2 linked regions of the Homo sapiens genome follow. The protein of the gene in region 1 purifies or fractionates together with the protein of each later gene. This does not show direct contact. Each region holds a gene or a part of one and is shown in the gene's direction. Other genes may lie near its edges. The genes, in order: BSN and RIMS1.

What was found.
Region 2: the proteins of BSN (region 1) and RIMS1 purify together in Homo sapiens (affinity purification with western blotting; 2 studies listed by BioGRID and IntAct, with this or other methods). This does not show direct contact.

Annotation. Positions count from the first base shown.
Region 1 is NC_000003.12:49,669,220-49,672,122, forward strand, and holds the end of BSN (protein bassoon), read left to right. Parts: 3' UTR 1-2,330; downstream 2,331-2,903. UniProt on the Homo sapiens protein: Scaffold protein of the presynaptic cytomatrix at the active zone (CAZ) which is the place in the synapse where neurotransmitter is released.
Region 2 is NC_000006.12:72,400,490-72,403,915, forward strand, and holds the end of RIMS1 (regulating synaptic membrane exocytosis protein 1), read left to right. Parts: intron 1-6; coding exon 7-225; 3' UTR 226-2,656; downstream 2,657-3,426. UniProt on the Homo sapiens protein: Rab effector involved in exocytosis. May act as scaffold protein that regulates neurotransmitter release at the active zone.

The DNA of each region.
Region 1 (2,903 bases):
TGCCAGAATTGTTGCCTGAGCGTGCCAGGCTGCAGGGCAGGCAGTAAAAGGCCCCCACATACCCTGCAGTTTTCTCTGTCCAGGACAGCAGGTAAAAAGGAATCCCCAGAGCAGACGCAATGGTAGGAGCCTGCACAGGATGTGTGTGTATGGACATTCTGAAGGTTTGCTGTAGGATATCTGTCTGTCTGTCATTTTCCCTTCCTACCCCAACCCTGAGCCAGAGGCATCTGACAGCCCTTTCCCAGAGGGCACCACGCAAGGGCAGAGCTGGGCGGCATCCACAGCCAGAGAGGCAGAGGCAAGAGCAGAGCCAGGCTGTGCCCGAGGGACCCCAGCTCTTGACTGCACCTGTTTCATGCCTCTCCTCTGTGGCTAGGAGGCTCAAAGGACTGTGAGCCAGGAGATCTGGGCTGGAGCTAGGGGGTCAATGGATGCTCAGGAAGAGCTGGGCCTTTGGCACTTGTGGTGAGAACAGTTGACAGTGGTCATCTGGAACTGTTCATATAAACAGTGGCTTCAAGCTAAGTTTCTTGTGAAGTTTCTCAATAGCAAATCTTACAGAAGGTCCTGTGTGACCCTCTCTGCATCTGTCCCCAGGACCTATGCTCCCTGCTCACCCCCTTCTCCAAAGCCCAAGCGTCCCGCTGCTCATCAGCTTTTTTACCATTGAGCCAGGAGTGCGGCAGGCAGTACCTGCCTGACCCTTCAAGGCCTGACCTTCGTCCAGAGTGCTCTGGTTTGCACCATGCATTTCTCAGGGGTCCGCATTTCTCATGCTTTTCTATAAGATCTACACACCCCTTCAGAGAGGGCTCCTCGCTCACCTCTGGTAGCTATGGATGGGACAGGAAGCTGCCAACCTTTGTGTTGGACTTAACACCCTTGCCTTTCTGGGACTTGGCCTCACCCCACCCATGGAATACCTGCCTCATCCCAAAGATCAGGTATGGGCTGAATGCAGCCATCTGAGCAAGGGCTGAGGGAAGCCATCACCTAACACCTCTGGCCACCCAGGACCAGGTCTGTGTGGGGATGTGCCTTGGAGACCAAGGCAATAGTCCTTTCCACTACAGGCCAGGGGATGGGACAAGAAGTAGGGAACAGGCAGGGAAATGTTAGGAGGTCAGCCTCCAGCAGGCCTAGTCTCAGGCTCTAAAGTACTGACTTTTCAGCAAATTTCCTTTCTGGCCAAGCCCTCTGAGTTTGAAATTCTGACATCTGCCACTCCTCATCCCCCACTGTACCCACAGGATACATCATCGCCCCTCTGTGAAGGTGGCTGGAGCAGGCCTCTGGTCCATGGACTGTCCTTCCTGGCCCTTGCATGGATGCAGTTGTGACTCTGGGGACAATGCAGCCAGAAGCTGAGGGACCAGCACTTGGTGCCTTGGAAAGTAGAGAGCAACAGACACATCTCCAAATGGGCAAGGAGTCTCTAGCATGCAGCCCAGGCCTTCTCCATACCCCTCTCCCCAGCATCATGAGCAAGGGCATTGCCTCCTCTCTCTGCTCACTTCAGGGCCCAGTGCACTCACTTCACAGTGACAGCCCTCCCCTACAATCCTTGGGCAGAGCATGTGGTCTGAGGGCCCACAGTGAAAGAACAGCAGTGGTGGCAACTATGCCTTGCCTTCTGGAGCCTGTAGGGAGTTTTCCAGGCAGGTCCTTTGCCAGGACAGCATGGTCCTGCCCTGTTGTCCCGTCTGCTCTCCTCTTACCCACCCCCATGCTGTAAATACTTGTCATCATGGACTCCAACAGGGTTAGAGGGACAGGCCTAATCAACTGAAACTCCTCGGAGATGCCATCTCTGTCTCCCTGGGTGCCAGCAGCCCTGCTGCCATGTGCACTGGGGTGGCACTGGAGAGCCATGGCAGTCGTGAGATATTGTATGTGTATGCACATGATCATGTGTGTATGTGCGTGCGTGCGTGCGTGTGTGTGTGTGTGTGTGTTTCTGCCTCATTCAGTTTCTGGGGTCAAATCAGCTCCTTCTCTCCAAGTGCACTACCCTGGAGAGTGGTGGCCACTCAATACCTTTTCCTCTAGCTTTCATGTCTTGTTTTTGCTTTCCCCTTCCTCCTCCCTCTCTCCCTTTCTTTCCTTCTCTCCTTCTTTATTTGAGGGGGGAAGAGTGCTGTACAAAGTCAAACAAACAAGTTTACAGTTGTAAGTGCAATGACCCGAGTCCTCCACATGACCTTGTGAATTGTGTGCTGTCCTTCTGTGCTCTGTGAGAACTCGTGGTACTTCAGTGTCCCTCCCCCTGTATTGTGACAAGGTAATTCTGTGGTATCAGAATAAAAGGACTTGATATAAACAACCTACAGACTGTTTCTGGGATGGTTTCTCAAGTGGGAAGGCTTAGCTGAAGGAGCAAATCCCCAAATTTGCGACAATCCTGTCCATGGTTAAAGGGAAAAGGATGGACAAAGTTGCAGAAGTGCTGGCACAGCACGGGGCTGAGTCCACACCAAGCCATCCAAAGACAATGGGCCCTCCACAAAGGTGCCCAAGGGGAGGTCCCAAGCTTGGACCTGGAGCAGGCAGTCAGTGCGCAGGCTGTTGAGGGACAGCACCTCCATGGCCTTCAGGTGTGTTGGCTGCATACACAGCTTTCTGGGACCTGGTTCCAGGGAGGCAGTGAACAAGTGCTGCCCCCTGGTGCTGCCAACAAGCCCTACACCTCTCTGCCTTGCTCCGAATTTTCCAACCCCCAAACTCTCACCGGCTGCCAGACCTTAGGCCTTCCTCAGATGGTCAGGAGTACCTCCTTACCGAAGTCACCCAGAGTTGCTAGACCTTTTTTTTTTTTTTTTTTTTTTTTAACACAGATAAACAGGAATCCCAGCTTCACCTCTGGCCCTCTCCCCAGAATTAACATTTTGATGCGTGTCCTT
Region 2 (3,426 bases), on another chromosome or scaffold:
CTGCAGGTGATTGTCTGGGGAGACTATGGCAGAATGGACCACAAATGCTTTATGGGTGTGGCTCAGATCTTGTTGGAAGAACTCGACCTGTCCAGCATGGTGATCGGATGGTACAAATTGTTCCCACCGTCCTCACTGGTGGATCCCACACTCACTCCCCTCACCCGGCGGGCTTCCCAGTCATCTCTGGAAAGTTCAACTGGGCCTCCCTGTATTCGATCATAGTGAACTCATACCAGAGTCATTCCAATAAAACTCTACTTTTCAGGATAATAATCTGAACCAGATATTTCATGATCGAAAGCATTGTTGGAGACAGACAATCAACTTGTGTTTTGCCTGTAGTAGTTTTTCAATAATATGTCCCAATTGTTATTTAAAACATGGCTTCATATGACAGAACAAGGCAATCTATCAAATTTACAGGAAGAATCAACATGCTGGTGAGAGTCACTGATGCTTCTAACAAATAGAAAAAGAGGAAACTTTAAATCCACGCATACACGTACACACACACATGCACACACACACACACCAAATTGAACAAACTGGAAACTCTCACTCTGTGAAAAGTTGTATTCTACACATTTCTGCACAGACCACAAGCAGTGTTATTTCCCTGATGTTTGAGTTGTTTTGTTCTTTTGTGTGTTTTGTTTATTTGTGTGTTGTTTGTTGGTTTTCGTTTCTTGAGTTTTTGTTTTGTTTTCACCACATCTGTTATTTCCACTAGTTTTTTTTTGGCTGTGTCATGACAGGCCTCATGATGCTAACAGAGATTCTTCCCTTCTTTTTTCCAAAAGCACCAAAAAAAAGGGCTGAAGTAGTCTCTGTAGCATCTCCCCAAAGTGTTAAACAGCTACATAAGGTGAAGCCAAGGAAGGGTTTCACTAGCTTTCATTTTATAATTATTTAAAGTCTTATGTGTGGATACCCAAGAGACAAAAAGTTATCTTCCAAAATAAATAATCACAGAAGTACTTTTTTAATGAAGAGCCTATCTGTTTGCATTCTAGAAAATTAATTTATGGTTTCCATTGTTTTGCATGGAAGACTTTTAAAGAAGTCAATCTGCAACTAATGCTGGGGACTAAAACTAACTGCATAATTGTACTTTGAAAACACTCCTTGTAATGCCTTTTTCTTCCTGATATTAAAAAAATGCTCATGTGTATAAACCATACTTTGACTTCCCAAAAATGGTGACTAGGAATGGATTTGAGCCTAAGACACTTTGAGCTATGCCCAGGCTTCTCAGCCATACCTCAGTGTAGACACATCCATCTGCCCTGGAAAGAGCATGGTATGAGCTGTTCAATATTCCACTGGAAATTCCAGTTGAAATATTCTGCACTAAACTATTGTTTTTATTGAATTTTAGTTTACATTTCTTTGAGATTGATGCAAGCACAAAGCTTGATTTTTTAATGCAAAGTATCTTACTTTTTGGGGGGAAAATAAACAAAATGAACTTTCAATTTGCATTTTCATTTAGTTTCTCTTGGCCTTGAATTTCCCTTGTGACATTCTGTACATGTGCTACAAACTGCAGTCTCTGCAGGTGCATTGATATGTTCTCCCTCCTTTTATGAGTCACTCCACTTTTGTGATTACACAAATAGAGCAGCATGACTTGGAACTGTTCAGAGCTGCATGCACATTTTGTAAAAAAAAAAAATTTTAAAAAGAAAAGAAACAAAAGGTTATTTAATAATGTATGTTAGTTCCACATAGGCCAGCTTGTATGTTGCATGTACTTGTACAGTTTGCTTGTTAATTACTATACCGAAATAACCAAGAAATCTAAGCCATCCACTTTTGTTATAGACATTTTGCAGGTTTTAGCCAGACTCAGTCTCTGGGTCTGTGGTGAAATGTCTATAGATGGACTTTATTTTTTACCCTCCGGAAAACGTGATGTAGTACGGACCAAATTCCTTCTAATAAATATTTTGGTGTAGATTCCTACTGTGGGGCTGTAACACATGTAGACACTGTGTACACACTAGGTTTTAATTCATAGACATACTGCCTGCACCAAGTGAATTATTTATTATTATTTACACATGCCAGAATTATCTGCCCATCATTCCACAGGGCACAGATTGACCACTGCTCACCATGCTGAGTAGGAGGAACTGAAGCATTGGTGCACTTCTACTAGATTCCGTTCTGTCTTAGTGGCCAACAATCAACTGATTATAATTGGGTAGTATCTTTCTATTTTGACCACTTGTCTTAACACTCCCCTGTGCTTTTAAATGAAATTCCAATTCATGTATGTAAACATGTTTAATAAAATTTACTTTTCATGTCAGTCAGTAGCCATATGTGTTCTATGTCTTGCCAGATTTCCATTGTGGGTTCTATGGTGCAAAATGGGAGCCAGGCCATGGGAAGGGGAGGCTGGGGTTTGTTGTCTGCTGCGGGCATTTGACTTGACTTGTCACTGCACTATATTATGTCTTAATCGATGGCCCAAAGGGTACTTTGCATCACATACAAGTTTTCACTTCGTCAGCCTGTCTAAGTGAGCACATGACTATACTTCTGAAAAGTGGCATTATTAAAAATAATAAATCTCAGTAAGAATCAAATGGAAGGTTGTTTTCTGCTGCTGTTTGAATGTGCTAATAAAAGAGACAACTCTATTGTCCAATTGCCAAATTATTTCAAGTTACGTGACATATCAAAAAATTGATTCCTGCGTCTCTCGTCATAGTATATTTCCTCTTTCCATCTTTTTCTTCTGAACCCATGACTAATTTATATAACTTTGGTTTAGAGGAGACCAATTTAACAAAAAATAAGCACTACATTTACACTGAATTATCTTTAATAGAATCTTAGATAATAAAAGTATCTTCAAATATAGATAGATATCCAAAATAATATATTCAAAGAGACATTATTAACTTTTTAGGTTATTTTATTATTTTTTCTTACCTGAAAGTGTGCTCATGTATTTAATAATCATCGCCTCTCATGAAACACTTGGTAAGCACTACTTTCATCTTGCATTGTAGTAAAATAACTTTTGTGATCTAGTCTTGTCTTTCTAAGAGCTCTTAACTTTTTATAGACCACGCTGGCTTTAACTTGTAAAGCAAAGTAAACACAGTTACATCAACATAAAATTTGAGGCAATAAAGAGTTTGGAGACATGAATGCATCAGTTATTTATAGTTTTTAAACAGTTGACTGAATTTTACCCTATTAAATCATCCATTTGTTTGGTCTACAAGACACAAGATTATCTGTTAGGCTGGGTCAGTAAGAGGCAAAAACAACTGGTCAGTTCAATTTAAAACAGTCAGATTTAAAGCTGTTTGATGCGCGTGCATTAAGAAAGCTCAGAGCTGGGTGAGGCCAGGAGAAAAGTCTGCCACTGAAACAGGTGATGAGAGTGGGCTTCAGAATTATTGT